6 linked regions of the Homo sapiens genome follow. The protein of the gene in region 1 purifies or fractionates together with the protein of each later gene. This does not show direct contact. Each region holds a gene or a part of one and is shown in the gene's direction. Other genes may lie near its edges.

Region 1 (3,751 bases):
TCAAAAGTAAGAATTGTTCTCTGAACTTTTTGCTTTTATTTTCTACAAATCAGTTCACAGCGGTGGAGTTAATTGCATATCATTCCATCCTTCGGGTAACTATCTCATCACAGCTTCTTCAGATGGTACCCTTAAGATTCTGGACCTCTTAGAAGGAAGGCTCATCTATACACTTCAAGGACATACGGTATTAACACTCAGATTCTTGCTTTTTATATATAAAAATATAAAATAATATATATTTTAAATTTCTGATCCATTTTTATGTCCCTTTATTGTTTTTCCAGACATAGCACACATTGCTGCTATCATAAAATTTTTTTACTTCCAAGGCTGTTTTTATCCTCTGGAAGCAACTCTTAGAAATATTATTTGTGGCTGGGCGTGGTGGCTCACGCCTGTAATCCCAACACTTTGGGAGGCTGAGGCGGGCAGATCACCTGAGGTCAGGAGATCGAGACCATCTTGGCCAACATGATGAAACCCCATTTCTACTAAAATACAAAAAATTAGCCAGGTGTGGTGGCACATGCCTGTAATCCAAGCTACTTGGTTGGGAGGCTAAGGCAGGGGCATCACTTGAACCCAGGAGGGGGAGGCTGCAGTGAGCTGAGATTGCACCACTGCACTCCAGCCCGGCAACAGAGCAAGACTGTCAAAAAAAAAAAATGGAAGAAAAAAAGAAATATTATTTGTTGTAATTCTTATCAAAATCAATGTGTATCTTTCAATGGCCATTAAATGAATCTTCTCCTGCTGTCTTTATCAGTATGTTGTATAGATTGACTGGGTAAATGGTGATGGGTAAGTAGATTCCATACTTCAGATCCTTCCTTCATGTGGAGGCTGTCCCGCTTAGCCCTGACACCCAGCCTCTCACACCTCTCCCTCACTCCTTCTGCTAATTTGTTGGTGGGTTTAGGAGAAATTGGGTAAGCACAGCCTAACACCTTCTACTCTCCTGCCTTTGGGAGTAGCCATTCTTCACTGTTTTTCTCTGATATTCCTTGTGGGGAGACCTGCCCTTGTCTAGTGTTGCCTGTGACTCATTCTGGGCATCCGTTCTAGAAAGCCTATTTGTGTTACACATAAAAGCCACATTCTCTTTTTACAAGCATTTATTAGAAAGAAAGGTGATATTTCGATTCTTATGTGCTGTATTCCTTTGTCTTATTTCTCAATTGGTTTAGAACCAAGTAGGTAAGAGGGGTGCCTTTTATTGAGCCTGTTCAAAGATCCCTCCCTGGCATATAGATCAATTTTTTAAATTTATTATTTCTTTATTTTTGAGATGGATTCTTAGTCTGTCACCCAGGCTGGAGTGCAGTGGCACAATCTCGGCTCACTGTAACCTCTGCCTCCTGGGTTCAAGTGATTCTCCTACCTCAGCCTTCTGTACAGGCGCACCACCACGCCCAGCTAATTTTTTGTTTGTTTGTTTGTTTAGAAGAGACAAGGTTTCACCATGTTGGCCAGGCTTGTTTTGAACTCCTGACCTCAGGTAATCTGCCTGCCTTGGCCTCCCAAAGTGCTGGGATTACAAGTGTAAGCCACTGTGCCCAGCCTAGATAAATTTTTTTGAGTATATAAACTAGTCTTTTCTTCCAGACAATATTCAAACTTCTCTGAATTTTTTAGAATGCATCCTCTTTTTTTTTTTGAGGTACTTCCTTTTAACAAGTATAAGCTGTTTATATCTAGAAATAGAATGAGCCTTGTGGTCTAGAAGAGAAGAGTTTCTTTTTCACAGGTTCTGCCTGGCTTCCTGCTTTGCGTTATCATTTATTCTGCAGTGGTGTTAGGGTAAAGCAGAAATAAATACTAACCAGCTTAAATATATGCATATCCATGGATTTAGGCTGAATAAACATAACAAATAAAAGTGGCCAAGGATTGAAATATCCATGAAAAAAGTACAAAATAATAGGGAAAAAAGATAAACACAGTCTTTCAGTAGGAAAACACTACATGAAGATGGAATTTTAGTCTGGAAGTAAAGGTGTTTATGAAGCTATTAATATTATAAACTAAATCTGTGGGATAGTCTACTTGGGAAAATACAAGATGTTTTTCCCTAAAACTTTTCTTGTACAGATTAAGGACATATTAAAAACATATGGTATATATTAATATTTTTGAGATAAGAAATACTTACTCTTATCTGGACTGAAAAATTGACCTAGAGGCTATCCATCTTGTGACTGTGCCAAGCACAGTCTTGTCCAACTCCGCAGTAACTGCTCAATTTCAGGTTTTCATTACCTCTCACCTAGATAATTACAGGAACTTCCTAACTGGCCTCCAACCAAGCATCTTACTCCAATTCATCTTTCTCAGAATTGTGATACTGATTTTAATCATTCACAGCTCTCCTCCTATCTGTGTTCTGCTCTTTAAACTTTTAGTGGTTTATGGTTGCCTACATGAAGGGGGAACTCAGTGAAGCCCATTGGTCAGGAAATGGACTTCATGTAAATAGCCTCATTCCCATTACCTACATATTTATCATTCAGTTTCTGCTAGTGATTGGTTGAATACAGAGTCCAAAGCCAGAAAATCTTAACAGAAATTCTTATGAACTTACATATGTAAAAGCTTTTCTTGAAAGGAGAAAAAAGTTATTTTTTTAATTAATTTTTAGTATTTTTTTAGTATCATTTATTTGTGTTTTAATATGATTGGGTTGATTCTTTGATTATCTTCACTCTGCCAGCATTAGTTGCTAGCAACTGATGTGTTTTATTAGACTTATTGCATGAGTAGTATGCATAAATTAGGATGAGAAATTGATATCCATAGTCTTCTTGGCCATGAGAAAGCATTACCAAGTACTTTTTTTCTTTATTTCCCTTTATTTCTCAGGGACCTGTCTTTACTGTTTCATTTTCAAAAGGTGGAGAGCTATTTGCATCAGGAGGTGCAGACACACAGGTTTGTAAATCTTTCAGCTCCTCTTTGATTTGGTTAAGGTAAAGGAATCCTTGACCTCAGCTAAGAGTTTTACAACCAGCTAGTTTGTGTATGTTAAGATGTTTGTCAATGAGTTTATATTTTAATTAGTACCATGAAGTCTGCTATCTCATAGCTGAAACAGAGCCAGTTCTAAATTTTGGGAACTCAAATAGTTATTTTCTTTTGCTCATTTTACACTTAACTATACATGTAACTGACACTATATGTCCACTTTCAGTAATTATATAGCACTTTTGCTTGAATCATTGCCTTATCTTAAGCTTCTTGAGGATGGTAAATATAAATCATTTATATACCAAATCTGCATTTATCTGAAATGACCAAAAGTCATTCATGGCCAGATTTATTGAATAAAGTGAATGACCAGTCCAAAACATGGTTTTGGGCTTTGACCAAAAAAAAAGAGGATTTTAAGATAACCAGATATTTTCTTAATATGAATTTTAAACCAGACATGAAGGCAATTCAAAATGTTAAATCTCTCCCTCAACCACACCTTAAAAAAAGATATTGAGAAATAGTAACATAGTTGAAATATATATCTACCCTTCCTACTTTGGGAGACAATTCTGTATATTGTGGGTTTTAAAATCAGCTCTATTGCTTGTACATGCAAGTCAATAACTGCCAACATCATTGACTTTTTTCATAGGTCTTATTATGGAGGACTAACTTTGATGAATTGCATTGTAAAGGTCTTACCAAAAGAAATCTCAAAAGATTACATTTTGATTCACCACCACATCTTCTTGATATCTACCCAAGAACACCACATCCC
Region 2 (3,751 bases), on another chromosome or scaffold:
ATGTCCCTCCAGGATCACTCCTGCTTCACTTTATATTTACTGCTTTTTGATCACTTTATGTAGGTCTAGATAGAATCCTGGGACTTTCCTCACTGTTCTGCTGGGATTTCCTTTGCCTCATCTCTTTATTAGATTCCCTGTTTTTAGCATCTCACAGTTTCCTGAAAAGGGGTGCCTTAGAGGTGAAGTTTCTGAGACCTTGCATGTCTAAAAATGTGTTTGCTTTATTTTTCACCTTTTTTGTTAGTATAGCTGGGTATAGAATTCTAGGATGAAAATCATTCCTCAGTATTTCAAAAGCATTGCTACATGATCTTCCAGTTTTAGTGTTCTGATTAAAAAGTCTGATGCCATCTTGATTCCTCATTGTCTTTTTTTTTTTTTGAGACAGTGTCTCACTTTGGCTCCCAGGCTGGAGTGCAGTGGCGCAATCTTGGCTCACTGCAACCCCCGGCCTCCTGGGTTCAAGTGATTCTTGTGCCTAAGCTACCCTACTAGCTGGGACTACAGGTACATACCACCACACCCAACTAATTTTTGTATTTTTAGTAGAGATGGAGTTTCACCATGTTTACCATGTTGGCGAGGCTGGTTGATTCCTCATTCTTTGGGTGAGGCCTATTGCTCCTTCTACTCTGGAATTTTTCAGGTTCTTCTCTTCCCTGATAGTCTGAAACTTCATGATGATATAGAAGATAGACCTTAGAGTGATTCTATTTTTCCTTATTCTTCTGGGTATTTCATGGGCCCTTTTAAGTTGGAAACTTAAGTTCTAGGAAATTAAAAAAATATTATTTAGCAATTTCCTCACCTCTATTTTCTATGGATTTACTTTTTTTTTTCCTTTTAATTACATTTATTTTAATGCTGAATTTACTCCCGTGCCATAAGTTTTTGTTTCTTCAGTTTCTTCTGGGATATCCTTTTCTTCTGGGCAACCTCCTCTTCTGGTTTAGGAACAATCTGTTCCTTTTCCGTAAGGATCATCTCAATGTGGCAGGGAGAGCTCATGTATGGGTTAATCCGACCATGAGCTCTGTAGGTCCGGCGGCGCATCTTAGGTGCTTTGTTCACTTGGATATGCTCAATGACCAGAGAATCTACATCTAAACCCTTAAGTTCAGCATTACTCTCTGTGTTTTTAAGCATGTGCAGCAAAAATTCAGCACTCTTTTTGGGCCACCGACCTTGTGTCCAGCCCCACTGCTTGGCCTGCGCACACCTGCCAACTCCACCATTGTAACGTCGGAATGGTACACACTGTTTCTGTAAAGTGACATCTTTCAGATACTTCGTGGCTTTTCGTATATGCATACCCTTGATGGCCTGAGCAGTTTCACGAGTGTTCTTAAAGTGAACACGAAGATTGGAACCTCTTGATTTGCATGATTCCGTGGGGTTCTCCGGGTCAAGTGAATAGCGAACCATTTTCACAGATTACCTCAGGCTGCTTCGGATTTACTTTTTTCTACCATCATATTTTAATTTTCTAAGAGGTCTTTCTTATTATCTAATTTCTTTTCCTTTTTAAAAAATAGATCTTGCTCTTGTTTCCTTATTAATCTGTTATTTCCTCTTATATCTAAGGATTTAAATTACATTTTTGTAGCTTTTGTTCCCTAAATTGCCTCTCTTCTCCCAAGTTCATTTTTCTGTTGATTTTAGTCTCTACCTTTTATCTCGGCTTTTTTCAGGTATCTAGAAAGCTTTGGCTGGCCGTAAACAGTGAGACATTAAAACAAAAGCTGGCTGGGTGTGGTGACTCACACCTGTAATCCCAGCAATCTGGGAGGTTGAGGTGGGAGGATTGCTTGAGCCCAGGAGTTCGAGAGCAGCCTGGGCAACATAGGGAGACCCCGTCTCTATTATATTTTATAATATTAAATAAAAATTTTAAAAGCTGATTGGAAGGAAGGGCTACATATGTGGGTGGATCTGTCTGCTTGTTGGCCTCACAAAAATTGATTAAGAGGAAACATAGTTTTACTAAGGTACCCTAAACTGTAAGTTTCTGATATTTTTTTCTCTTGGGCCAGATAATTTTCCTGAAGAGCATTCTCCAGTGTCCTGTCTGGGGTTGGATTTAAGCATAGCAAACAGGATTCTGGAACTAAGCAAGGGAAGGGTACTTGACATCTCACTATAAAATATGTGGACTTTGACTTAATTTTCTTTCCAGAATGGCTTTTCATCTCCTCCTTACAACTGTCATTGGTGCCACTGAATCCAGAGCTTATTTTAATAAATGTCTCCAGAGAGTAACTTTGGAGTCAGCTAGGATTGTTTGCTAAAAAGAAAAATTAGTGTTTGAAAGGGTAAATTAATTTAGTTTCTATTTTGATACATGGAGTAAACTTTACTTGAATTTCTACTCCCACAGCTCTTCAGAACATTCGGTCATTAAGCCACCTCTTGGAGATTCTCCAGGGAGTCTTTCAAGGTCGAAAGGGGAAGAGGTAATACTTTGGGGAAGGAAGTTTTATTGTTTTCATATGCACCTGTAAATTTTGCTAAGAAATTTTCAATTCAAAGAAAGAACCATTTTAGTCAGACGTGGTGGTGTACAGTACCCAGGAGGCCGAGGCAGAAGAATGTCTTGAGCCCAGAAGTTTGAGATTGTAGAGTACTAGAATCGCACCTGTGGATAGCCGTTGCACCACTCCAACCTGGGCAACAGAGTGAGACCTCGTGTCTTAAAAAAAAAAAAACAAAAAAAAACCCCACAAACTTTTACTGCTAATGTTGGTATTTATCTCGAGGCTCAAGGCAGTTGAGCTCTCAGTGGTGTAACTGAAGAGGGAGCCTTAGAAAGCACAGTTGGACACGTGGGAGTGTTCATATTAATGGCCTAGTAGTGGCCTTGGGACATGAATTGAGGCTCTGTGTTATTCTCTGAACCCTATGGTTAATTTCATTATTGGTATCTCTTTGGGCTTCTCATCGGTACACCTTTTTTTTTGCTTTGGAAGCAAACATCCTTTCCTAGCTAGTATACAGCTTCACTCTATCTTACTTTTCCTAGTTCAGATTTTAACCCCATAAACAAAGGTGTTAATTTGAGATGCTTTTAGGGATGAAATAGATAACATAAATTAATAAAATTGACCATTTTTATGATAAGCACAAAGGAATATTTGTCCCTTGCAAAAGAAATATGCAAGTCCAGTGTTTCCAATTCCTTTGATTTAAAAAAAAATATTAGGCCAGGCATGGTGGCTCACACCTGTAATCCCAGCACTTTGGGAGGCTGAGGCAGTTGGATCATCTGAGGTCGGGAGCTCAAGACCAACCTGGCCAACATGGCAAAACCCCGTCTCTACTAAAAATACAAAAATTAGCCAGGCATAGTGGTTCACGCCTGTAATGCTAGCCACTTGGGAGGCTGAGGCACGAGAATTGCTTTAACCCAGGAGGCAGAGGTTGCAGTGAGCCAAGATCGCGCCATTGTACTCCAGCCTGGGGGACAGAGCAAGACTCTGTCTCCAAAAAATATATGTATGTATATATATTAATAGAGACATGGTGTGACTACGTCACCCAGGCTGGTCTCAAATTCCTGGGCTCAAGCAATCCTCCCACCTCGACCTCCCAAAATGCCAGGATTACAGGTGGGAGGCACTGCACCTGACCTGATTTTCAAGAAAAGCTAGAAATCTAGATTTTTATGTGAAATCACCTAGTTTTTTAAATGACAACAAATTTAAAAAAATTTTAAGGCTGGATGCAGTGGCTCACTCCTGTAATCCCAACA
Region 3 (3,751 bases), on another chromosome or scaffold:
GATCACAGAGCTTACCCAAAATGGTATAGTCAGCTAGTCGATCTGGGTCCAGAACATGGGCTCCAGCCCTCATCACACCATGCTACCTCCTGTGCTAAGTGTCTCCCCAGGGTGGGAAGCAGGGGTATGAAATGCCCCTTGCTAGAAACTTGCAGAGTTGAGAAGATGTACGGCCGAGAGTCCTTGCAGTTCTGGATGCCTTCTGCCCTGGTGGCCTGCATCTTGCCAGTCTCCTTCAGGGGCTGCCAGGTGAAAGAGAAATTGGGCAGTTTCTCTTTCAGCTTAATAGATAGAACCCAGGGTGGGGAAAAGGAGAGTAGCCACAGAAGGGGAAAAAAGTAACACCTGATACTTTTGACTGCTCCTGTAAGTCATTGCTTTGCAACAGCCCAGTGAGGCAGCCTTGTTAACCCCACTTTTTTGCATTTGAAGAAACTGAAGCACAAGAGGTTTGAAGCCATTTTAGTAATCTACTGTGGAGCAGTTTATAGAAGGATTGGGATTAGATATGATTGTTTTCTATTTATGGATATAATGTAGAAGTTTTGGCAAAGAGCATTGTTTTCCTCTAGGGAAAAAGAATTAATGAAATGAAAGATGTCTGTAATGCTTCTTCAGTGAATTAAGTGTTGAAAGTTTGAGGTTATTGTAATGTCACTGAATGTGATATATACTTAATCCAGGCACCAGAAAGTATAAGACATAAAAATATGCTGCTATAGGACCTACGTTATGAAAATGGGTTTGTTAATTGAAAATAGATTTTTCACATGCACTTTTGGTATAGATAACACAATTCTTATTTCACATTTGGCTGAAGAGCTGCATTGATGCAGACAAGGGCAAATTCTTGCTTGGGATTACCACTAGTAGCATGGATTTGCTTTAACCGTTAAGAGTAGAATTCTTAACTCTTGTCATCAAGTCTTAGAAAGCAATATATAGGTGCAGAGGTAAGAGGAGCAATAAGGAAGGTTTGGCAAGTGAGAGGGAGCATGGAGGGATGTGGGTTGGAAGAGGTGGGCAGAGCCCAGGTCTTACTGAATCTTAAATTCATGGCAAGACATTCAGGAATAATTCTGAATGTGATGAGAAACCATTGGAGTGGTGTTCTCAGATTTATGTTTCATGTTTCCTAAGATTACTTACCATGTGGAGATACCGAGAATTCACCTCTTTCTTAGGATGAAGGCATAATCGATACAGAGATCATTATGATCAGTTGTGTGCCTGACTGTTAAAGGTTATTTTTTTAATTCCAGAATATGGTTGAGCCCCTTATACCCACGAATTGCTGATGGAACCCACAAATCTGGAGAGTCGCCAACACATTTTAAAGCTGATCTCATCAGTTACTTGATGGCTTATAATGCCCCTTCTCTCAAGGAGTGGATAGATGTCATTCACAAGCACGATCTCTCTGAAACAAAGTATGTGTCAGCTTATCAATTTGGGGTGCTTATGATAGGCTTATACCTTGGGAGCCTCATGAGGTCTGGCATGCAGGGGCCTGGAAAGAGGTGGGGTGAAATCTAGCCAAGCTTCAGGATGTGATGAGGGGATGAGCAGATTCTATCACATCTGTATCTTGTGGTTCTCAGGCATTAAAGTGACAGCCAGTGAATCCTCATGTTTACCTTAGCCTCCCACTGGGTTACTCTCACAATTATTGAGTTCTTTGTCTGGTACTTTACATCTTGTAGGCATTCCATCATTAGTTGATTTGCTTGAAAATGAATTTGAGAGTCAATTCAAGAAAATGGATTGGCTCTTAGATCATTTCTTGATTATATTAGTTTTCATGTGTATTTTGTCATTTTTTTTGGTGCCCAAAGCACATCACTATATTTTATAACTTGTGTTTTTATGTCTTTTTAGTGTTTATCTTATTGGTTCAACCCCAGGACGCTTTCAAGGAAGTCAAAAAGATAATTGGGGACATTTTAGACTTAAGAAGGTAACAGAACTTTTACTATTTTAACATTTTTAAAAAATTTAATGTATATTCTCTCTTTTAAAATAATTATATATTTTGATGCAGCTTCACAATATTTCTGCACAATTCTGGGCAAATAGATACTTGATAAATTGATAATTATAATTCTTAGTAATTACTGCTTTTTAATGTGTTTTGCCTCTTTTATAGCTGTAGGCTGTTAATGGCATAAATATATAGACCTTTTCTAGTTTTTATATTGTAATAAAGATAGAGGCTTCCTATTCATACACATACTGTAGCTTTGATTATAGCTTTTGATTGTTCAGCATATCAAGTTTTAAGATATAAATTCAACAAACAGAAAATGTTGAGTAAAGACTACAACTGAGCTATAATATATTTTGATTATTAAACCAGTGCCCTTAAGAAAACAAATTCAAAAATAATACTTGCTGCTGATATGAAAATGCACGAAGAAAGGTCATAAAATAAGTTGAAGATTAAAGTTTTTTTCATCTCTTTTTAGGTGGTTTACTGACCTTAATAAATTCCCTGGCCAGGTGTGGTGGCTCACGCCTGTAATCCCAGCATTTTGGGAGGCTGAGAGGGGCGGATCACAAGGTTAGGAGTTCAAGACCAGCCTGGCCAACGTGGTGAAACCCTGTCTCTACTAAAAATACAAAAATTAGCCGGGCATGATGGCAGGCACCTGTAATCCCAGCTACTCGGGAGGCTGAGGCAGGAGAATCGCTTGAACCCGGGAGGCGGAGATTGCAGTGAGCTGAGACCACACCATTGCACTCCAACCTGGGCAACAGAGCGAGACTCCGTCTCAAAAAAATAAATAAATTCCCTAAAGTGGCTTTCTTAAAAGCCTTAACCTCTTATTCCATAAACTATTTAAAGTCTAAGAATTTTCCCTTGGTTAATGAAACTTTTTATTTTAATTTCCTTTTATGAAATGAGACCACAGCTTAAAGCAGGCAAGATCTTGAAGACATCTTTATGTCTTGGCCTAGAGAGGAAGTTCAGCACATTGGCCTGTGCCCAGTCTTGGAGGCAGATATCCATAGCTGGGTTCAAACCCTGCTTTGTTATCTACAAGCCGTGTGACCTCGACTTGTTCCTTAACATACATCGGTTGTCATCTATAAAGTGGACATAATAATAGTACTTCCCTCCCGTGATTGTGAGGATTAAATGAAATGATGAATGTAAAATAGTACAGGGCACACAGTAAGTCTTCAGTGCACATACACAGTTGTTTGTGGACAAATGTCTAATGGTTTAGATAGGCTAGATAATAGCACGTATTATGTGTGATCACCATCTGATACTGAAAGTTCAACTGTATGTTAAGAGTTTTCAAACCACTTTTTACACACAGTTGCTCATGTTGCACCACAGCTTTCTTCCAGGAAGGCCGGCCGGTGATTAGGTGCCTGTTTCCACTGAAGTGTAAATCTAAGCCAGAGGCTTGTCCAGGATAGGGTGGCCCTTCAGGGGCTGAGCACTGCAGTAGAAACTGGGTGTTGTAAGTTGTCGGTTCAGCTCTGTTTCCTACACCATGCTGTACCCAAGGTGGACATGGAAACTTTGGGCTTTTTGGGAAGTGTATGTGTAAGTATTAATGCCTAACCTGTGTTAAGGAAAATAATACATATTAAATTAAACAAAACGTCAGTCAGATGAGCTACAGTTTATTTTTCTGCTCTCTCCAGCCCTCTAGGTAGGCATTCAGTACATATTTAAGTGGATACAGTTTCCAAATGTTTTCTTAATTGTTTCTGCAGCTTTGCATAATTATCAAAG
Region 4 (3,751 bases), on another chromosome or scaffold:
CAAATTCTGCCACATCTGCCAAGCCTGGCTGAACTTTCATTCTGTATGCATCGTTATTCATCCTTTATCTGTAGTCCAGGATACTTAGTTACTCTCGTGATGACTTAATATTTTCTCTTCCTCCTGATTATCATAAATATTAGGGGCCCTCAGTGGAATAATTTAAGAAAAATTCTTCCCTAAACAGCAGATCTGAAAAGCTTACTCCCCAAATATTTATTCAATGTACTATACAAGGGACCTTAGTTTACCTCTCTCTGTTAAGCCTCATAACACCTGTATCATAAAACTATCTTGGAGACTATTGATAATGTATATAAAGTGCTAGTGTGGGCTATGTAATACATAGCAGATAATCAACAGGAGGCAAATGCTGCTTTTATAAAAATGTCTGGAACAAAAGCCAATATATGCCTTCTGCTGAAAGTGCTCATTTGTGTCCTGATTATGGTCACTGCTATTCTTCCCGAAATCTTTACTCCTGGGCAGTAAACAATGCCAGCAGAAACTAAAAGTGACCATTTTTCTTCTCTCTAAAGAAAAATTTAATATTGACTGCATTTGTTAAAATAAGACATTGTGTTATGTTTATTAGGCAGATATTCTTGGGGGAAAGTTTTTTTTTTTTTTTTTAAAGATCTCTCTTATGGCCTTGGCTAATATTTGAAATCTTATATCTTAGAAAAATCTTCATTCTTTGTCACAGTTAAGGGGTGGTTTGACTGGATTAATTTTTTTCCTTAGAAAATTTTCCATAATTTTAAAAGTATTTAAAGCCTTTTGGCTTCTAGCTTCCATTGGTTCGGTTGAGAATGGATTTTTTTGGACCACTTTGAGTCTTTTTTTTTCTTCGAGATGGAGTCTTGCTCTGTCACCCAGGCTGGAGAGCAGTGGCACAATCTCGTCTCACTGCAACCTCCATCTCCCAGGTTCAAGCGATTCTCTTGCCTCAGCTTTCCAGGTAGCTGAGATTACAGGTGTGCACCACCACACCCAGCTAATTTTTGTATTTTTAGTAGAGACAAGGGTTCACCATGTTGCCCAGGGTGGTCTCGAACTCCTGGCCTCAAGCAATACACCTGCTTCAGCCTTCCAAAGTGCTTGGATTACAGGTGTGAGCCACCATGCCTGGCCTGACCACTTTGAGTCTTGATCTTTAATCAGTGACCTGTTTTGTCACTCAGTAACCTTTAAACCTTTATTCCTGTTGTTTTAAACAATTTACCAGATACCTTTTGGCCTCCAGTGGCTGTTTGGAAATGTTTGGGGAAAGTTTTGATAGTCAACATCCCTGGGGATGCTGGGGGAGGGTCCTTTTGGCATTTCATATCTGTAGGCCAATGAAGTTAATTTTCTTGCAGTTAATTTCCTTGCAACAGAGGGAACAGTCTCACCCAAGATGTCAGTGGAGGCCCTCTTTGGAAGTGTAACCTTGGGGAAATATAAGAATAATTACAGCTGCATGTTGATTATGATGTATGACAAAGGAAACAAGACACATACACCAAAGACCAATGAGTATGTTTGGTAATCATGTTATAGACATGCTATGTGAAATTATGGAGGAAGAAAGTATAAATGACATGGTACAAATTGAAACAGAATAAAAATCACTATGTGAAATACAGTCATTAAAAATTACCTTTCTATATTTATCACGTTATTTCTTGGACATTATAGGCAGTATTATGCTTAGTAATGTTTCTGACACTTTTTCGGTATTTCCACTTTTGACACTTTTCTGTATTTCCAAGTAGTACCCACTCTTAATTACTTTAACAGATCAAGAAAATTAACCCTTTTGTATAGTAGGATATCTATTTGTAACATAAACTCTTTTTTATAGTAGGATATCTGTTTGTAACGTAAACACTTAGCAATTCCAGATCCAGAAAGATTTGAAAAGAAACATTTTTGCAAAGGCTAGAACATGACTGATAATAATAGCTATATATTTCTAAATTAGAGTGGCATTCAGAAAGAGTTGATCAGGGTTGTACTTGTGCAGTTTCATAGCAGTTTCTGAGTTAGCAATTTGCAGTTCTATTTCATTAATGTTTTAGGAAATGATTTACCAGAATAGCATATGTAGGTAGCTGTATTATAAGAATTTGGATTATCCATCATTTTTCTGTGGTCCCTTTTACTACTTTACTTTATTAATGTTGCTGACTAAGAAAACTGTACATTAGAAATGCAGGACTCCAAGGAAGCAAAGAAGGAGTAAGATAATGAGGTAGGAAGATGGAAGAAGATTTTAGAATAGTAGTTTGATAATTTTGTATTAATAGAATAAAGCATTTTAAAATAATTATTAATGCAGAGTCTTCATCTTAATTTGCATATGGTATACTTTTACCTTTCAGAACCTAAATCACAGCCACAGCAGCTTCATCAGGGACAATACAGATCATCAAATACTGAGCAAAATGGAGTAAAAGATAATAATCATCTGAGACATCCTCCTCGAAATGATACCAGGCAGCCAAGAAATGAAAAACCGCCTCGTTTTCAAAGAGACTCCCAAAATTCAAAGTCAGTTTTAGAAGGCAGTGGATTACCTAGAAATAGAGGTTCTGAAAGACCAAGTACTTCTTCAGTATCTGAAGTATGGGCTGAAGACAGAATCAAATGTGATAGACCGTATTCTAGATATGACAGAACTAAAGATACTTCATATCCTTTAGGTTCTCAGCATAGTGATGGTGCTTTTAAAAAAAGAGATAACTCTATGCAAAGCAGATCAGGAAAAGGTCCCTCCTTTGCAGAGGCAAAAGAAAATCCACTTCCTCAAGGATCTGTAGATTATAATAATCAAAAACGTGGAAAAAGAGAAAGCCAAACATCTATTCCTGATTATTTTTATGACAGGAAATCACAAACAATAAATAATGAAGCTTTCAGTGGTATAAAAATTGAAAAACATTTTAATGTAAATACTGATTATCAGAATCCAGTTCGAAGTAATAGTTTCATTGGTGTTCCAAATGGAGAAGTAGAAATGCCACTGAAAGGAAGACGAATAGGACCTATTAAGCCAGCAGGACCTGTCACAGCTGTACCCTGTGATGATAAAATATTTTACAATAGTGGGCCCAAACGAAGATCTGGGCCAATTAAGCCAGAAAAAATACTAGAATCATCTATTCCTATGGAGTATGCAAAAATGTGGAAACCTGGAGATGAATGTTTTGCACTTTATTGGGAAGACAACAAGGTATGGATGCTTTAAAGATATTATACACTAATATTACGAAATGTAACATTCTAGTGGGACTTTATAGAAGCTGTCACTTTGGAACTATGAGTCTTTTTCTACTATTGTACCTGTTTAAAATCTTTGAACAGATTTATAGATATATAAAGGATAAACAAAATATTTAATATTTTTATGGATGCCTAGGGACAATCTGTCCCGTAAGATTTGGTTAAGTTCGGTTTGGTTTTAGCTTACATGCCAGAAAAGTATTGTAAAAGTAATTATGTGAAGTTGAGCTTTATTTTACTTATCATCAACTGAATTACATATGTTTGCTTTTCACTCTGGTAAAATTACACTGATTCACAAGGAAGAAAATCAGTTGAGAGGCACAAAGTAAAATTCTGCAGATTTTCAGTTGAAGAAAATAGTACACATTCAGCTTACTTTTTTAAAAAGTTAACATATAAGTTAATTATTTATTTTATAATAATTTTAAAATTATTAAACCATTGCTTCTCGGCCTTTTGGCTAAGATCGAGTGTAAAAATT
Region 5 (3,842 bases), on another chromosome or scaffold:
TGGCAGTAGGCAAACAGAGAGCTTGTACAGGAGAACTCCTCCTTTTCCAAAACCATCAGATACCTTGAGACGTATTCACTATCATGAGAACAGCACTGGAAAGACCTTCCCCCATGATTCAATTACTTCCCACCGGGTCCCTCCCACAACACGTGGGAATTCAAACTGAGAGTTGGGTGGGGCAACAGCCAAATCATAATGGATAAAATGACAGAAATATCTGTCTCTTGCTAAGCTCTTACAGCTTTTCTCAGCTTATACCATGAGGCCTGCCACAAGGAAGGATTTCCCCTATAAAAAAATTTCCTGATAATTCTCAAAACAGCCTCTGGCGTCTCTTCACGAATAACATCATCCACCCATCTCTCCATCCTTCCATTCATTCAGTTATTCTATAATTGTCAATTCTCTGAGCAGCTACTACACACCAGGCATCACGTGAAGATGGAAGGTAGAACAATGGCTAAGCAGAGGAACTTCTGGTGGTAGCTGGCTGGTCCTGGGCTCAAGTTCATGAGAGGTGACACAGCTGTGCAGCCAGCAGTTGCTCTACAAACATTTAGATGAGTGAAAATAATGAGGGAGGGACCATCCGACACCTGGATTTGAAGGATAGTTTGGATTTTCCAAAAACCACACTTGCAACAGGTTGTGTACTGCAGGTAGACCTGGATTAGTGACCTAAGTTTCATCTTATCTTGAGGAGAGTGAACTTTGATATAAGGGCTCAGGGAATCCCAGCTCCTTTGTTCCTTCCCATGTTGGCTGCAGAGAAGGGATTCCCCATGATAGCCAGGGTCTTCAGGGCCTACTGTCACAATGTACAGAATAAATGGATGGACTAAAAGGGCCAGGTTGCTCCAGAGCTTCCGAACGTGACCATTCTTCCCAGAGTTTCACTGCTCCGAACTCTCCTTCACAGACTGAGGTCAGCCTGCCCCTATGTTGTTTACCCTGAGTTCCTCCTTGGAGAAAAGGCTTTTTAGAACCGAAATAATCATTTTAGTTTTTCCTTTCCCCTGCCAGGCACGAGTATACTGAGTGATGGATTAACAGAATATTACTATTTTTCACCTAGCCACCATGCCCTTGGCCTCCCAGAATAACCAGAAATACCTATTGTTTATCTCTACATCCACTTCATATATTAAACAGCCCTACAAGTGTCACCTGTGCTGAGGATTAGACTCTTCCAGAAGATAGGACAGTTTCTGGTTCCAGCAGCCCCAGAATGTCTTCCTTCTCTCTCTTTCAGCCCACACCACCCTTCCTGTAAACACTACACCTGGGAGCAAAGGGTGTTCAGGGGGATAAAGCCCAGGTGACATCCTTGTCAGACAGCAAGTGCCACAAGTTTCATCACAAAAGTTGAGTCAACAGGTGGGTGAGGGAAGAGGGGTGAATCACATCTGACAGGTAAGGAATGTAGGCACAGCAGCCCAGATGGATCCTGTTTCCTTGAGGCAGGGCTTGTTCCATGCATAAAAAGCCAGTTGGCTGGGAACACTACACCAGTTCTAAGGGACCATACAGAGTATTCCTCTCTTCACACCAGGTGAGTCTCTTTACTTGGAACTCTTTAGCATCCATTCTAGGTATTTAATTTTTATTAGAGTCTCCTTGGCATTCTTGGTATTTTTTTCCCTCATTATTGAATTTGATCATAGCCATGCAGACTGTTCAACTGAATTATAACCTCTAGGAATATCTTCATTTTAAAAGTGTTCATACTGTAGGCTTGAAGAGAATTTAGACATTATCAGTTCTTCATTCACTCTTTCTGTGTCAGCAAGAAGGGGGTTGGTTTATTCAAGGATCCATAGTAAGTTTGTAATGGGATAATGACTAGAACCCAGGTCCACAGCACTTACCCTGGCATTATAATTCCTTCTTATTTATAATTTTAATACAGAGAATTTTATTCTTTCAACAGATACTTTTGTGAGAGCTTACTATATTTGGCAATTTGTTTGCAAAGAAATAATTTAAGCATCTATGATACTACAATTTAATCAGGAAATAAGAGCTAAAATGCATTGTATAACAGTAACTTATCAGTGCCAGGTGATTAGGGCAAGTTCTGTGACAGTTTGGGAATAGAGAGATTTCTGGAAGGTTTTTTCTAGAGAAGCCACTAAAAGTCCCATATGAAGCGATCTGTGGAGTTTGGTTAGTGCTTGAATGAGTAGGAACAAGGAAAACATTTAAGACAGAGGAGAACTTGAGCCAGGCCACAGGTGGGATTGCTTGGGGTTCTAGAGAGGTCAGAGTTATACAATAGATGATAAGCCATGCTATTTATCAGAAATGAGTGAGTAGATTTAATTTGTTAGGGTTTTTTTTTTCCAAAGAACCTCACATTTCCAATGGTCCAGTATTATGAGTCTCATATTCCTGCTAGAAGCCTGTTATTGTGCTGTGTAGGAAGAAAGAGAGCACCAGGAGAGGCCCTGCTCCAGTGGAGCAAGAGCAAATCATCTTTAGGTTCCTCTTCTTCAAAGGCTCAGAAATTAAATTAAGTATTCTTTGTGGTCAAGAAGGGGAAAGAACATAGCTTTTTAAGAGACCAGAAGTGGTATTCACCATGGCTTCTTCCCTATTATTCTCTGCTTAAATCATCTGTTCTGTGTCCAGGACCAGTCACTGTTGCAGCATGAGTTCCCAGCAGCAGAAGCAGCCTTGCACCCCACCCCCTCAGCTTCAGCAGCAGCAGGTGAAACAGCCTTGCCAGCCTCCACCTCAGGAACCATGCATCCCCAAAACCAAGGAGCCCTGCCACCCCAAGGTGCCTGAGCCCTGCCACCCCAAAGTGCCCGAGCCCTGCCAGCCCAAGGTTCCAGAGCCATGCCACCCCAAGGTGCCTGAGCCCTGCCCTTCAATAGTCACTCCAGCACCAGCCCAGCAGAAGACCAAGCAGAAGTAATGTGGTCCACAGCCATGCCCTTGAGGAGCCGGCCACCAGATGCTGAATCCCCTATCCCATTCTGCGTATGAGTCCCATTTGCCTTGCAATTAGCATTCTGTCTCCCCCAAAAAAGAATGTGCTATGAAGCTTTCTTTCCTACACACTCTGAGTCTCTGAATGAAGCTGAAGGTCTTAGTACCAGAGCTAGTTTTCAGCTGCTCAGAATTCATCTGAAGAGAGACTTAAGATGAAAGCAAATGATTCAGCTCCCTTATACCCCCATTAAATTCACTTTCAATTCCACTCTTGACTGTGTGTCATTGACTCTACAACTTCATTCCTTTCCCTCGTGAAGCGGGAGCTGTACACAGAGATGAGTTGGTGAAGAAGGGCTTTGTCCAGAAGGCATCTGATGCTCACATTAGGAGGGTGAAGGGCTGCCCCCACAAGCATTCCTGGGCTGCCTATGGGAGGTTGTGTAATGCCACCTAGAGGCTGTTGCTTTGGGCATCCAGGGCTGGAAAAGGGCTCTCCTCTTGCAACTCAGTGAGTCATGCTAGAGTTTAGTTAGCACTTGTCTAAGCTGACTCTGACTCACTAATCCTGATTGCCTTCTCTCCAAATCTGGCTTTTAGACTGCTAACTTACCAGCCAATTCCTGTTTATTTCAAGTAATGTTGTTCCTACATATGCTAACCTGCTCCTTCTCACTCATTTCTCTGATATCTACAACCTAGATTTCCAAACACCTCCAAAGATGCACAGACTCCGTTCTTTATCTCAGTTAGTCATTTCTAGTTTCTGAGTGCCAACTCTGGACCTGAAACAGAACAAAGGGGATTTAAGGTGCTTGCCAGGGGCATTTACAGTGCCCTGGAGGGATATACTTCACTCCCTACCCCACCCCTCATTCAAACACACATACACACATATACAA
Region 6 (3,751 bases), on another chromosome or scaffold:
TGTATGCCCTGCTGTCTAGCATACCTAGGAGACACCATCTGTCATGACCAGGGATATATAAAGGGCCAGGAAGTCAGTATTTTAGGCTTTACAGTCTTCATTGGTCTCTGTGGTTGTCACTGTTTTTTTTTTTTAAGCCCCAATGCTGAAAATGTAAAAACAAAGCTGGGTGCAGTGGCTCATGCCTGTAGTCCAAGCTACTTGGGCAGCTGTGATGGGAGGATCACTTGAGCCCAGGAGTTTGAGGCTGTGGTGAGCTATGATCGCACATGTAAATAGCCACTGTACTCCAGCCTGGGCAACATAGCAAGACCCCATCATAAAAATGTAAAAACAATTCTTAGCTTCCTCAGTGGGCTGGATTCAGCCTGCAGGATATTGTTTGCCAGCGTCAGGCATCACATCTTGTGGCTGGGAAGAGGATTCATCTTGGACATGTAGCTCTGCTCTAGGAGGGGTTGGGGAGCCTTGTCCAGAATAGGTACATACTGCTGACCTTTCCAGAGGAAGCTGGTAAGTCCTGGCCAAGGACCATGATATTACAACTTTTAAGCTTTGCCAATTCCCTGTTATTTTCCTTCCTTGTTTAGTTGCACTAAAGGGAAAACTCTAAAAGGTAAAGGACTTAACAGGCTGACGTTTTGGAGGCAGCAAATAAGATGGTTTTTGGCAAGATGGTGCTTCATTCTGCTGTCCTTGGGCAGAAGGGCTGAATGTGGCAGCTGTTAAGGGAGAGTAGAGCAAGCTGAGCTCGTGGGGCAGGAGGAAGAATGGAGGCCATGAGTCAGTCTGGCCAGAGAATGGGGTACTGGCAGGACTCCCTACACATCATCAAGATACTGAAGGAGTCTATTGACAGTTGCTTCCACCCTTTGCCTTTATCATCCTTAGGAATTCAGGAGTCACCCTTGGTCCAAACCTAGGATCAGGAGTCCTAGTGGAACTCATCTGTTCTCCAGGCAGAGCCACAGATGTGCAGGGTTAGTGCTGACTCACACTTCTGTTTCCTCCTCTAGAGACATCTGAACAGCTGACCCCTGAGGAAGAGGCTGAGGAGACAGAGGCCTGGGCCAAGCCTCTGAGCCAACTGTGGCAGAACCGACCTCCAAACTTTGAGGCTGAGAAGGAATTCAATGAGACCATGGCCCAACAGGCCCCTCACTGCGCTGTCTGTATGATCTTCCAGACTTATCATCAGGTAACCCAGCTCCATGCACTCTGTTTACCCAGGACCAGCAATCATAGGGAAGCTAGATTTAATTGTGAGTATATAGCTTGTCACTGGTTGTCTTGGGAAAGGCCACCTCCACCCCCAGCATTCTCTGCCCCATCTGTGTATTGGTCAGTCTTCTCCAGGCAGATAACCCAGCAACGTGGGTTTCAATTGAGAATGCTTTGGAGATGAGCTGAGGGTGGGCTTAGGCTCCCCTTTGCACATGCAGTCATCACAGACATCAGTTTGCAGAGCAATCTGCATTTCTGTTATTCTAGTCCGTGGTTATTCCTGCCAAGTGGTTTATAGTCCTGGCCAGGGTGGAGAACTGTGATTTCCTTACCACAGTCTGAACCTCAGCTGAAAAGCCAGATCCTCTAATGTTGTTTTTCCTTTCCCATTGCCACAATGCGTGTTGCCAGTAGCAGAAGGAACTTGGGAGGGGTGGAAGCAAGGGCCTGATATGTGAGGAGGGGCTGGGAAGCAAGATTGCTGAGCTCAGCTGTGTGCCTCCTGCTCTGGGGCATCTGTGGCTTCATTGGTGGATCTCTTTGGGTCCAGCTCTAGGATGCCAGGAAGGCATTCACAGCAGCAGGTGCCAAGGGACCAGCTCAGTCTCAGCTGGGACCTGCACAGCATAGCAGGTAGGTAAGTGGTCCTTACCTGCTGTGGTGGTTAAAGTGGCATGGCTGCCGCTGAGCCTGGCAGGGCCCCAGATTCATGCTTGCTGAAAATGGAACCTCAGACCAACACACTTTGGATTAGGAACTCACTAAACCTTTCCATTGACAAAAAGCAAAACCAAAGCCTTTGCCTATGAGGGGAGTGAATGGCTGGGTTCTTACTATAAGCAGATCTACTAAGTAGGAGTTTCACAAATGGCATAGGCTCTGGGGTTGACATCTTTCTGGGCCTCATCCTTGGAATGGAGATGCAGGTGCCATCCAGCAGATATTTGCAATCAGTATAGTTTGCCAAGGGAAGTATGTGGATTTAAGTTCTTCCTGGAGGGACCCTGAGCCAGGAATCACACAGGTGGGGCTCCAGCCATGTGACAGTGCTGCAGTTCAGGTGACCTGCTGACAGGCACAAGAGGCAATTAGTGCTGGCCTACTAGGAGCATCTGCTCTGGGTACACTCCTGAGGTGGGGTCACCGCACAGTGTAGCACGTAAGGGAGCCCACAGTAGCAGCCTAGCTGCTAACATCTCCGTGCATTTTTTTTTTTTTTAGACGGAGTCTCAGTCTGTTGCCCAGGCTGGAGTGCAGCTGGGACTACAGGCACACACCATCACACCCAGCTAATTTTTGGATTCTTAGTACAGACGGGGTTTCACCATGTTGGCTAGGCTGGTCTTGGACTCCTGACCTCTGGTGATCCACCCGCCTCGGCCTCCCGAAGTGCTGGAATTACAGGCGTGAGCCACCTCACCTGGCCTCTCAGTGCATTTTATTAACCACTTTCTTTGGGAAGATTGAAATCCCAGTTGCCTCTTACCTTGCTCCCTTTTCTCAGTTGTCCCCTAGGGGCCTTTGTATGATGCTGCTGTGAGAAACTGAATTTGAGTCATTACAGGTAACTTCAATTAGCAGCTCCGGGATAATGGCTGTGCACCCGGGAGCTGTAGCCATAGTCAGATCGGTAAGAGAGCCAGCTTTCTGCTGATAGAGCAGGTGGAAAGCTAAGAGCATAGGCACGTGCTCACTGAGGTGTACACTTGTTCTTTCCCCTTAGGTTGAATTTGGAGGCTTTAATCAGAACTGTGGAAATGCTTCAGATTTAGCCCCCCAGAAGCAGAGGACCAAGCCATTGATTCCAGAAATGTGCTTCACTTCGACTGGCTGCAGCACGGACATCAACCTTTCTACTCCTTATCTTGAGGAGGATGGCACCAGCATACTCGTTTCCTGCAAGAAGTGCAGCGTCCGGGTCCATGCCAGTGAGTGCTGCTCACCTTTCTCTGTGTCCTGTCCCAGGAGTATGGGCCTGCTCACTGGAAGTTCTTGCCACCTCCTGGCCTCCCAGCCCCAAAAAGATTGTTGATGTTTTATTGGGGAGTCTGTTGCTAGCTGATTTTTCACTGTCTCCAGGGGTCCATACTGGCACTAGTCATCTCTTTGCCATCCTCTTGGTTGCAGATAGCAGAAAGGGATTAGTCCCTGCCACTTACTAGGTGTTTGTACCAGTGAATCTACAGTTTTTGACTTTTTGAGACTTTGAGCCATACTGTATGCCTGAGCCCTGGGGACTCAGACTAAAGAAAACTAAGGGGTTTCTGTGAGATTTGGTTGTAGCTTTGGGAGGTGGTATATGGAAAGGAATTGCAAATCTACCTTTTGACTCTGACCACTGGGTTTAATTTGCTCATCTTGGTGTCCCTGTTAGGTTGCTATGGGGTCCCCCCTGCAAAGGCTTCTGAAGACTGGATGTGTTCTCGGTGTTCAGCCAATGCCCTAGAGGAGGTGAGTGATCCCACACTGTTACTGTCTTCACCATGAGTCTTGGTGCATATTCAGGGCCAGACGATTTCATGTTGGA

The links.
Region 2: the proteins of POC1B (region 1) and WDR47 purify together in Homo sapiens (affinity purification with mass spectrometry; 2 studies listed by BioGRID and IntAct, with this or other methods). This does not show direct contact.
Region 3: the proteins of POC1B (region 1) and TDP1 purify together in Homo sapiens (affinity purification with mass spectrometry; one large-scale study listed by BioGRID and IntAct). This does not show direct contact.
Region 4: the proteins of POC1B (region 1) and TDRD3 purify together in Homo sapiens (affinity purification with mass spectrometry; one large-scale study listed by BioGRID and IntAct). This does not show direct contact.
Region 5: the proteins of POC1B (region 1) and SPRR1B purify together in Homo sapiens (affinity purification with mass spectrometry, with the first as the bait; one large-scale study listed by BioGRID). This does not show direct contact.
Region 6: the proteins of POC1B (region 1) and KDM4A purify together in Homo sapiens (affinity purification with mass spectrometry; one large-scale study listed by BioGRID and IntAct). This does not show direct contact.

Annotation. Positions count from the first base shown.
Region 1 is NC_000012.12:89,466,797-89,470,547, reverse strand, and holds part of POC1B (POC1 centriolar protein homolog B), read left to right. Parts: intron 1-53; coding exon 54-187; intron 188-2,862; coding exon 2,863-2,931; intron 2,932-3,625; coding exon 3,626-3,751. Other genes in the region: POC1B-DUSP6 readthrough, read left to right, coding at 54-187, 2,863-2,931, 3,626-3,751.
Region 2 is NC_000001.11:108,989,959-108,993,709, reverse strand, and holds part of WDR47 (WD repeat-containing protein 47), read left to right. Parts: intron 1-2,380; coding exon 2,381-2,456; intron 2,457-3,751.
Region 3 is NC_000014.9:89,983,254-89,987,004, forward strand, and holds part of TDP1 (tyrosyl-DNA phosphodiesterase 1), read left to right. Parts: exon of another isoform or gene 1-23; intron 24-1,262; coding exon 1,263-1,430; intron 1,431-1,878; coding exon 1,879-1,957; intron 1,958-3,751. UniProt on the Homo sapiens protein: DNA repair enzyme that can remove a variety of covalent adducts from DNA through hydrolysis of a 3'-phosphodiester bond, giving rise to DNA with a free 3' phosphate.
Region 4 is NC_000013.11:60,526,001-60,529,751, forward strand, and holds part of TDRD3 (tudor domain-containing protein 3), read left to right. Parts: intron 1-1,361; coding exon of another isoform or gene 1,362-1,518; intron 1,519-2,366; coding exon 2,367-3,217; intron 3,218-3,710; exon of another isoform or gene 3,711-3,751. UniProt on the Homo sapiens protein: Scaffolding protein that specifically recognizes and binds dimethylarginine-containing proteins. Plays a role in the regulation of translation of target mRNAs by binding Arg/Gly-rich motifs (GAR) in dimethylarginine-containing proteins.
Region 5 is NC_000001.11:153,029,693-153,033,534, forward strand, and holds SPRR1B (cornifin-B), read left to right. Parts: upstream 1-1,510; 5' UTR 1,511-1,555; intron 1,556-2,634; 5' UTR 2,635-2,653; coding exon 2,654-2,923; 3' UTR 2,924-3,208; downstream 3,209-3,842. UniProt on the Homo sapiens protein: Cross-linked envelope protein of keratinocytes. It is a keratinocyte protein that first appears in the cell cytosol, but ultimately becomes cross-linked to membrane proteins by transglutaminase.
Region 6 is NC_000001.11:43,687,898-43,691,648, forward strand, and holds part of KDM4A (lysine-specific demethylase 4A), read left to right. Parts: intron 1-1,016; coding exon 1,017-1,198; intron 1,199-2,947; coding exon 2,948-3,152; intron 3,153-3,598; coding exon 3,599-3,675; intron 3,676-3,751. UniProt on the Homo sapiens protein: Histone demethylase that specifically demethylates 'Lys-9' and 'Lys-36' residues of histone H3, thereby playing a central role in histone code. Does not demethylate histone H3 'Lys-4', H3 'Lys-27' nor H4 'Lys-20'.